Linked DNA regions of Homo sapiens. The protein of the gene in region 1 purifies or fractionates together with the protein of each later gene. This does not show direct contact. Each region holds a gene or a part of one and is shown in the gene's direction. Other genes may lie near its edges.

Evidence for each region.
Region 2: the proteins of CPLANE2 (region 1) and PKP1 purify together in Homo sapiens (affinity purification with mass spectrometry; 2 studies listed by BioGRID and IntAct, with this or other methods). This does not show direct contact.

What each region holds. Positions count from the first base shown.
Region 1 is NC_000001.11:16,231,106-16,234,390, reverse strand, and holds the end of CPLANE2 (ciliogenesis and planar polarity effector 2), read left to right. Parts: intron 1-626; coding exon 627-779; intron 780-1,373; coding exon 1,374-1,498; intron 1,499-1,744; coding exon 1,745-1,881; coding exon of another isoform or gene 1,882-1,892; intron 1,893-2,093; coding exon 2,094-2,343; 3' UTR 2,344-2,699; downstream 2,700-3,285. UniProt on the Homo sapiens protein: Required for efficient primary cilia initiation, regulating a late step in cilia initiation. Plays a role in the final maturation of the mother centriole and ciliary vesicle that allows extension of the ciliary axoneme.
Region 2 is NC_000001.11:201,314,429-201,321,721, forward strand, and holds part of PKP1 (plakophilin-1), read left to right. Parts: intron 1-2,124; coding exon 2,125-2,269; intron 2,270-3,143; coding exon 3,144-3,351; intron 3,352-4,189; coding exon 4,190-4,367; intron 4,368-5,387; coding exon of another isoform or gene 5,388-5,450; intron 5,451-5,838; coding exon 5,839-5,953; intron 5,954-7,293. UniProt on the Homo sapiens protein: A component of desmosome cell-cell junctions which are required for positive regulation of cellular adhesion.

The sequences.
Region 1 (3,285 bases):
TCGCTCTGTCGCCCAGGCTGGAGTGCAGTGGTGTGATCTCGGCTTAGCAACTTCCACCTCCCAGGTTCAAGCAGTTCTCCTGCCTCAGCCTCCCAAGAAGCTGGGATTATAGGCACCCACCACCACACCCAGCTGATTTTTGGTATTTTTTTTTGTAGAGATGGAGTTTCACCATGTTGGCCAGGCTGGTCTCGAACTCCTGACCTCAGGTGATCTGCCCGCCTTGGCCTCCCAAAGTGCTGGGATTACAGGTGTAAGCCACCGCACCAGGCCTCCTCTGTGTAATTTATAATGAACAGAAGCTTATTTGGCTCATGGTTCTGGAGGCTGGGAAGTCTAAGAACATGGCAGCAGCATCTGGAAAGGGCCTTCATGCTGTGTCATCCCGTGGCAGAAGGCAGAAGGGCAACAGCAAGACAGCAAGAGGCGCCCAAACTGGCTTTTATAACAAACCCACTCCCTCAATAACAACATTAATCCATTTATGAGGGCAGCTGATCACCTTGTGTTAGGCCCCACTTCCTAACACTGGTGCATTGGCGATTAAGTTTCCAACACATGAACTCTGGGGGACACCTTCAAACCACAGCACCCCTTGACCCTGCCTGGCTCTCTCTTTGCCCTAGGGCTGCTTGAGCGGCCAGTGCTGCTGCCGCCTGTGTCCATTGACACTGCCAGCTACAAGATCTTTGTGTCCGGGAAGAGTGGTGTGGGCAAGACGGCGCTGGTGGCCAAGCTGGCTGGCCTGGAGGTGCCTGTGGTGCACCACGAGACCACCGGTGAGTGGGACCTCTATCCTTTGCCCATCCTGGGAGGCCCTCCTTGGGGGTGGAGGCAAGAACCTGGCCCTGGACCACCTCTTACTCTGTAGCCTTGGAAAGTCACTTCACGTCTCTGAGCCTACATGGGCTCCTTGGTCCCAAGGGGATAATAGTACCACAGGGTTGTTGTGTGGTTGCCACTAGAGGTGGTGGTGGTGGTAACATGCCTAGCATCAAGCTACGCTCAAGGTAAATGCTCAGGAAATGCTAATCTTGCTTTGTTGTTTCTCACCACTGGATGCTGATTGTTCCACCATGTTGAAACATCTCCCAGCGTCCTGGGCCCTTTGGGTCTCCCTGGACATACAAACGAAACTTGCTTTGCCATAGCTAGGGCTGCATCTTCCTGGTGTACCAGAGTCTCCTCCAGGGCCAGTTTCTGTTTCTCCCATCAGACTGAGAATTATCCCGGGTCAAGGACTGTGCCTCCCTCATCAAACTAGGGACCCATCAGGGCAGGGATGTATCTCTTCTTCCTATTCCTTCCTGGTCCCCTATTCCTCCCATCTCCACCTCTCCCATGGTGAGTGGCTGACCCTGGCTCCCCCTCAGGCATCCAGACCACCGTGGTATTTTGGCCAGCCAAGCTGCAGGCCAGCAGCCGTGTCGTCATGTTTCGTTTTGAGTTCTGGGACTGTGGAGAGTCTGCACTCAAAAAGTTCGATCATATGCTGCTGGTGAGCAGGCATGTGGGCCTGGGTGGGTTCTGCCAGGGGCCGATTGGGTATTAATGAGCTCAAGGCACTGCTCAGAGACCTGAGCTGGCACTGGAGACAGTCCCAGCCCATGCTTGTCCTAGGACCAGCCGCTCCTTGCTCTGGGCCTCAGTTTCCCAATCTGTGAAAGGAGGGATTATTCCTGATTCTTCTGAGGGCCCTGCAGCTGATGGGGGGTGACATGGTTATATGCCTCTCCATCACCAGGCTTGCATGGAGAACACAGATGCCTTCCTCTTCCTCTTCTCCTTCACTGACCGTGCCTCCTTTGAAGACCTCCCTGGACAGCTGGCCCGCATAGCAGGTGAGGCCCCTGGTGTCGTCAGGATGGTCATCGGCTCCAAGTATCCTTTGGATATCCTTGGCAAGTCACGGAGCCAGGGGGTCAGGGGCCCAGCCTCTGCCCAGGCATGGAATTCAGCACCTGGGCTTTTACTTAAAGGGTACAGCATGGCTACCCCAGCTCCTGGGTGTGGGCTCCAGGGAGGAGGGAGAGGCAGGGTCTGATGGGGGGCTGTGCAGAGGCACCCAGTTAGGCTCCTTGACCCTCCTCCAGATTTGACCAGTACATGCACACGGACGTGCCCGAGCGGGACCTCACAGCCTTCCGGCAGGCCTGGGAGCTGCCCCTGCTACGGGTGAAGAGTGTGCCGGGGCGGCGGCTGGCTGATGGGCGCACACTGGACGGGCGGGCTGGGCTGGCCGACGTTGCCCACATACTCAATGGCCTTGCTGAGCAGCTGTGGCACCAGGACCAGGTGGCGGCTGGCCTGCTTCCCAACCCCCCAGAGAGTGCTCCTGAATGAGTCACGAGTGGTTGCCTGTGATCCCACCCCCAACCCTCAGGTCTCGACATAGGGCTGGAGGCTGGGGCAGGAACATGGATCCTATCTGGAGGACTGGCCAGCATGGCCTGATCAGGGAGGATGTGGCCAGAGAAGGCCCACCCGCGAGCAGCGCTTTCCTTGCAGAATTCATGGCAGGGAGGTGGGGACCAAGGCCCTGAGCTCGAACATCTCCCGTGGCCTTTCCCCCTTTGGCAGCACCGATGGAGGATGACTGGGAGAGGGGGTGCCTCTCAAGTTACTTCAATCAAGAACCTGTATTGGTTGAGGTGACACCATCTGTTGTAACAGATAAACCCCGAAATCCCAGTGCTGAACTCCAGAGACGTGTTCGTTCTCACGTAGGCCTCAGCTCGGGAGGAGGTGACAGTGGGCGTGGGGCTCTGCTCCAGGCGCTCCTGCAGAGACCCAGCCCCAGAGACCCTACCCTGCCCAGTTGCCCTAGGGTGTCAGCACCCAGTCAGCAGCCAGGGAGTGAGTGCAGGCAGGAGGTGTCCCCCCGCTTTCTGTGGACCAGGCCCAGGGTGGCACCTCATTCTGCCCACATTCCAGAGGCCAGCACCCAGCAGTCATGTGGTCATGTGGCGCTGTGGGGGAGGCTGGGACATGGAGTCCACCTGTGAGTCCAGGAGTTAAGCCCGTCGCGCTGCAGGGCCCTTTTTTTTTTTTTTTTTTTTTTTTCCAGAGTCTTGCTCTGTGGCACAGGTTGGAGTACAGTGGTGCACTCTCAGCTCACTGCAACCTACACCTCCTGGGTTCAAGCGATTCTCCTGCCACAGCCTCCCAAGTAGCTGGGATTACAGATGCCAACCACCATGCCTGGCTAATTTTTGTATTGTTAGTAGAGATGGGGGTCTCACTATGTTGGCCAGGCTGGTCTCGAACGCCTGACCTCAAATAATC
Region 2 (7,293 bases), about 190 Mb from region 1:
TCCAGCCTGGGCAACAGAGTGAGACCCTGTCTCAAACAAACAAACAAACAACAACAACAACAACAAAAACCCTGAGGGACTTCATGGGGCTTCATGATCTACTGCTACAGAACAGAGCACAACTCCTGTGCATACATGTGGAAGGCCATCACCCAGAGGAAACAAAGGAGACCAAATGGGGTGCCCCGTTAGGAGCCATAGACGCAGAGGTGTCGTGAGTGACACTGAGCCTGCCCTTCAGGGCTGGGGGCTCCCTGAACCTTTGAACTGTCCTTCATCACCACCTACTGCTCTTGTTATTTATTTATTTGGCAAATGTTTGCCGACCATCTACTACATGCCAGGCTCTTTGACAAGTGCGGGAGACACAGCCATGATAGGGACAACCCAGAGCTGTTCTGGAGCTACACAATTAACTCCTTTTCTGAGAGCCTCAGGAGCTTTGCATTCTTCATCTTTAATCCTCACACCCGCCACCAGGCAGGCATGAGTATTCCTGAGGAGAAAACAAGGCACAGAGATGTTAAGTAGTTTGTCCAAGGCCACACAGCTGGCTCTCCATCCTGTGCTCTTCCCTACTGGTACCACACTGTTCTGAAAATAAGCAGAACCCCGTTATAGAGCTAGACGTTTCCGAACTACCTGATGGCCGTAAGGCGTATTTAGGATGATCTGGAGAAGAACTAAGAAACCTCTCTGTCTTGGAGGCTGATCAGGGCAGCCTCTGGCTTCAGCTCATTGTCCCAACCAGAGGCCCTGAGTGGAGGTTCTAGGTGAGATATGGAAGGGATGAGTGTCAAGCCATTTTGGGGTGACATTTTACTGATGAATGCAGGGTGACATTCTCTCAATGCAGGCAGCAGTACTACTTACCCAGTGCCAGAGAACTCTGCACCTCGGGTGGTTTTCCTAGAAATGAAGTTGGGCTGCTATAGCTAAAACCATGGGTATTTATTGACCACCAAGTATGTCAAAGCATAAGGATAGGGCTCCCTCTTTGAATGCTGGACACAGCCAGTCACCACCCTGTGACTCTACACCAGGGGAGCTGGAGAGGTTCTTAGAAGAGAGGTTTCCCTTCCCTAGGAAGGCTTCACAGATGTGGGGCATCAGCAGGGCCAGTGGTGTGCCTTGAGGCATGCCTGAGACCTGGCCAGGGTACAGTGAAGGGGACAGTCTTGCTGGAGCAGACCCTGGATAGGGGCTGGGGAATGTTCATAGTGGAGCCGGGTTATTAGGTTAAAACATATGAAATTTCTGGTTTTATGGCTGAAAAAAGGTTGACTACAGACATTTCCTATGATTCAACCTAATACCTGCCCTTGGACATCAGGCTAAGCTGTTTAAACTTGAACCTGAAGTATGGAGAAGCCGCTGATGGTTTCTGAGCTAGAGAACAACACAGTGAACTGGGTTTTAGAACCACTTATCTAGTAAAAAGGGTATGAAATTTTAGATGGGGGAACTTGAGGAAGAAAGCCAAATATGGAAGTCCCTTGCTGCCTTTAAAGTGATCAAGATCAGGAAATTGGTGGCTATAAGAATGGGAAGAAAGGCTAGATGTGAACATTTTTGTGTAAGAGCCAGCTGGACTTGGGGATGGATAGATGGATGGATAAATGGATGGATGGATGCATGGATGGACAGATGGACGGACAGACGGACGGATGGATGGACAGATGGATGGACGGATGGACGGACGGACGGACGGATGGACGGACGGATGGATGGATGGATGGATGGATAGGATCATGGCCATTGTCTTCCATTTTCCTAATACCAGACACAAACAAGAGAGATGGCAAGGTAGGTGGGAAGCTTCCCCTCAGGGAATAGGGAGGAGTTTTTCCTCAGTGGAGAGATAACATACCTGCTAGGACATTAACTGTGACCAGGGGCTCACTATTCTCACATGGGGCAAATCCAGTGGGTGTAGCCTTCCCTCCTCTGGAGGAGAGGAGCTGTTCCCAGGGGTATTCTCCAAGTGGGCCTGGGCTGCCTTGTTCTGGCTCTCCAGAGGGCAGATGAGGCTGTGGCAGCTTAGTGTGCTGGGAGGAATTCTGAGCCCCCTCAGCAGGGCTCCCAGCCCACCCCGTAACCACCCCCACTGCCTATTCTTCACAGGATCTGCAGTGAGGACATCGAGTGCAGTGGGCTGACCATCCCCAAGGCTGTGCAGTACCTGAGCTCCCAGGATGAGAAGTACCAGGCCATTGGGGCCTATTACATCCAGCATACCTGCTTCCAGGATGAATCTGCCAAGCAACAGGTAGCTGGTTGCATACCTTCCTCCTTGGTGGGCCTGCGGAGGGCCTGGGTGTGTCAGCCTGACTCCGCTTTTAGAGATGGGTGAGGGCATCTGCAGTTGGCTTCTCTTGCCTTGCCCAGCTGCCAGGAGCCTTCGCATTGCCCAAGGTTAGAGCTGGGCATCTTAACTTTCTGCAGAGCAAAGCCCTCTGTTTAAGTGGACATTAGGCAGGTACAATTCCTCCATTGGTCATGGAAGAGACTTCAATGCCAGCCACGGGTTCAACAGAAACCCCTTTTCTCAAATCCCACTAAAGAACATGACTGCTCCTCACCTCTCAACTCCTGCCCTCCTACCTGCTTCCTCTCTCCCACTCCCCTTCTCTCTCCAGGCATCTTACGGTAGAAAACAGGCCTGTTGATGCCTCCAAAGCTTTGCTGGCAGGAAGGACACTACAGGGTTCTTCAGTTCAGCCCAAGGATGTAGTGTCAAAAATGAGTTTCCCAGAGTCCCGGATAAGTTTGTATGCATTTCTATGTCTGTGTTCTGCTTTAGGGTTTTGAAATGTATTTACATCCACTCTCTTATCAGGTCCTCACCATCATTCTCCAGAGGAAGAAAGCAGGACTCAGGAAAGAGGAGGGACCCTAGCTGAGGTTCTCCCAGCTAGGATATGGGAGCTAGGATATGGGAGCTAGGATCTGAATCCAGGTCTTTTGCCTCCGGGTCTGGGTCAGTTATCATGACCTCACACTGCTTATTTATTTTGGTTGACTTGAATATTTCTGAACTGATAGATTTTTTGGTCTGAAAAAAAAAATCACCTTTGAGTAGAGAATAACTAGATCAGCCTCATCTCCCTTGACCAGGCAGCGTGGCAACTCTTTCCTGGCAGGTCTATCAGCTGGGAGGCATCTGCAAGCTGGTGGACCTCCTCCGCAGCCCCAACCAGAACGTCCAGCAGGCCGCGGCAGGGGCCCTGCGCAACCTGGTGTTCAGGAGCACCACCAACAAGCTGGAGACCCGGAGGCAGAATGGGATCCGCGAGGCAGTCAGCCTCCTGAGGAGAACCGGGAACGCCGAGATCCAGAAGCAGCTGACTGGTAGGACAACACGGCCACCGAGAGCCAGCCTGAGGGCTGTGCAAGGCCACTGGCTATGGCCCCAGGCTGGGGTGCAAGCCTGTCTCTCCAGGCTGGGCCAAGACACAGCTGTGCAGATTTGGCCCAGGGCTAATATCCTGAGAGTTTAGTGACACTGGCCTTGGCCCAATTAGGGGTGTCCAGAGGGTGACCTTGGGTGGTGTGCACACACAAGGGGTCACCATCTTTTTGAGGTTAAAGAGCAAAAGGAGGAAGGCTGATGTCCAGGCAAGATCCATATTCCACAAGCCCTGGGATTCCCAGGTGATGGAAAGAGAGTAAGACTGAGGGGAGAAGGGGTTAACAGGCCTTAAGCACCTACCCTGTGTTCAAGAAATATGGTAGGCACTCAAGGTGGGGGGCACAAGAGGAAGAGGTCACCGTGAAGACCTAGAATTGGGCTGGGAAGATCAGACCATGTACAGAGTAATGACTGATAAGTATTTCTGGCATAACTTTCAGATGGAAAAGAGACAGCGTTAGAAGACTCCAAGTGCTAAAATTTATACTAAAAACCACTGATCAATCAAACGTTTTTTGATCACTTTCCACATGCATAATTTTGGCCTTGACAGAGAACTCTGAGATGTTCCCTGCCTGCAAAGAACCTTCAGTCTGGTTGGGGCATTGAGAAATAGCCTCATGACACAGACAGACAATAGGTTCTACAGACCAGGGCTACCTGGAAAGCGACATTTCAGTAGGGCCCATTTGCCAGAGTCCAGGCTGGGGCTGTTACCTCGGTCCCTAGGGCATCCTGAGCCTGGCACAAATTGGGTTGATGGTCTCTGACCCCCAGGGCTGCTCTGGAACCTGTCTTCCACTGACGAGCTGAAGGAGGAACTCATTGCCGACGCCCTGCCTGTTCTGGCCGACCGCGTCATCATTCCCTTCTCTGGCTGGTGCGATGGCAATAGCAACATGTCCCGGGAAGTGGTGGACCCTGAGGTCTTCTTCAATGCCACAGGCTGCTTGAGGTGAGAGAAGAGGATACATGGGGTCTTTTTGTCCCAGCCTTGGGCCCTTCCCCAGGCAGCCCCATCTCAGCCAACATTCAGCCGGTGCATAGAACATAACAGACAACCCGGCACTCCCTCTTATGGGCAGGCTCCAAGACACAGGGACTCAGGCCTTCCTAACTTCCCTGGAACTGGATAAGGCCCAGGACCCTACCACCCCCTTTGAGAGAATGCAGCGGACATTAGTCAGAAATCTGAGCTTGAAAATGCCTAGATCTGAATATCCAAACTGGTTCAACCATTTCCCTCCTCCACCCCATGAAAAAAAATGCATTTCTTGTGCTATCATCTTGAAGAGTGTTCTTTTAGACAAAAGTCTACCGATGGGTTGCTAATGAGTCACTTCCCAGCTGTGGTGTTAAAACCATTTGCCATGTTCATTGGCATGAAGATGGCACTGCTTCACCCAAAGTTGCCTAAGTTCCATACCAGGGTGTGGCAAAGCCCCTGTGGGGCTGGTGGGAGGGCTTGTTCTAGAAGCAGTGGTTTACAAGCTGGCGAAATGGGTGGGTGTGGAGGGGCGGCTGGTACAGGGCTTGGAACCCTGGAGCAGGATCCCTTTTAGGGTCTTTAATGGGGTTTGTCTTGCTTTAATGGGATTTGTCTTTCCCAACTCCTGAGAATCCCCCCAGAGTGGTGGGTGCAGCTGGCATGTGCCTCTGTGTCTCAACTTGTGTTTCTCCCTGCCAGCCTCCGGTAGCAGCCTCCAGGAAGCAGAGAGGCTGGGGAGATGAAAAGTGAGGATAATTAAGAGTTTTATGGGGTTGATGTGCTACTGGTAGCAACAGCAGCCACACCCCACCTGCACCAGGCTGATGAGCCCACATTGCTTGGGGATGAGCCCACATTGCTTGGGAGTGAGCCTACTGCTGGGGGCAGAACACAGCTTGGGTGGAGAGGGAGCTTCTGGTGCCCAGCCCGGCCACCCCCAGATCCACTTCTGATCCAGCATCAACAGGGCTTCTTCCTGTCCCACAGAAAGAGACTGGGCATGCGGGAGCTTCTGGCTCTTGTTCCGCAAAGGGCCACTAGTAGCAGGGTGTGAGCCTTGGGATGCAGCTGCGGAGGGACCGTTGCCACATGGAGCCATTGCCAGTTATAAAGTTACTGGGCAGAGTGAAGGAGGAGAAGAACTGAGTGCAAATGAGACCTCATTTCAGCCTCAGCCAGGGCCAGGCGGAATTGGCTAAATGGTTTCTCTTTCCTTCCGTTTTCATCTTTTCCTCTCTTCATTCCTTTCCTCCCTTTCCTCTTCTCCTTCCTTCCTTCTACCACAACTTCCAATCTCCACCCCGTCGTCTCCTCTCTGCCCTCCCCTCTCCTGCCTGTTCTCTCTCCTGCCTGTCCCCCACCACACTCTCTTGTCCCCACCTTCCCCGTTCTCTCTTCCCCCTTTCTCTGCCCTCTTCCACCCTCTTCTCTCCCCCAGGAACCTGAGCTCGGCCGATGCAGGCCGCCAGACCATGCGTAACTACTCAGGGCTCATTGATTCCCTCATGGCCTATGTCCAGAACTGTGTAGCGGCCAGCCGCTGTGACGACAAGGTGAGTGCATCCCCTGGTGGCACCCTGACCCCTAGGCCCAGCCCCCTACATTTTCTGGGTGCCTTTGAGGCCTGGCCCAGTGACAAGACAGGAGCACAGACTCAGGGGTGGTAGAAGAGGCATCTGGATGCAGGGCTCAGTGGTGGCTACAGGAGTGGGCTCTGGGGACAGCGTGCCCATGCAAATCCACTCTCCCTCACTTAGAAGTGGAGTAGATGCAGCTGCTTCCCTAATCTCTCTGTTTCCCGGTTCACTCTTCACTCTAATGGAAAGGGTCATAATCATATCAACCTCAAGGGTTGTCTGAAAGGCTTGATTAGTTAATAAGCAAAACACGAAGAGGGCCTGGCACAGAGGAAGCTCCCAGCGAGCATCTGCTGGCTGTGCTTCATTGGTGGTGCTGAGGCCTGTCCTGTGACCCCGAGCCCTGCCCCACAGCCCAGAGGAATCCATACTGGTGCCCCCAGGGCTTAGTGTCCCCCCTGAGATGAGGCTCCTTCTGCCACTGCTATCTTCCCACTGCCTCCCAGAAAAGCCATTGGCAGTCATCTTGCTGCCCTCTCTGGACTTCTGGACACACAGCACAGACAAACAGAAAGAAAAAAAGTTGTGGAGGGCAGATAAACAGAAGGCTGAGATGTTCCCACCATGGCAGGACAGTGGCTCAGGAGATAGTGAGGCCCAGCAGGCTCCAGATCGCCAGGGAACGGGCTGACATCACAGCACCTGGGTTCTCAGCACAGTTGCCGTAAGGAGGGATTTTATCTCCTGCTCCCTCCACTGGAAGCAACAGCAGGGCCACAGAGGAGAGCCTTGTCACTGGGCTGCTCAGCCTGCTTCCAAAGGGCAAGATGCTTTTCTGCTCTGTGTGCAATATCTCCAACACCTGTGTAACCCCAAGCCCTGGAAGTCAGATTCCCTTAGACCCCAGCAAGGGCCAAACATCATTAGGAGGGTAAATCTGCTGCCCCCAAACCCTAGTCCTTTGGAGGTTTGCCAAAGGAGATTGACAAAGATCTGAGCCCAGCTGCCATGATGAAGCCCTGGGCTCCAGGTGTTGCTGTGTTTTGTGTGGACTTAGCACCGCTGACATTGACAGCTAAGGACTGGCCCCAGGAAGAAAGAATGATGGGGGCACTAGATGGCTTTGGAATCTAGAGGCATGGGGCTTCTTCTGGAGGAGTTTGTTCTGGAAAAAAAAAAAGACACATTCTTCAATATCCCAGTCTGCCCATTGGCATGTTGTCCATAGCAGTCCTACCACACACTAGGCCCTGTGATAAGTGCTTTCTCTGTATCATCTTCCAAATAGCCTAGTGAAATGGACAATTGTAGTCTCA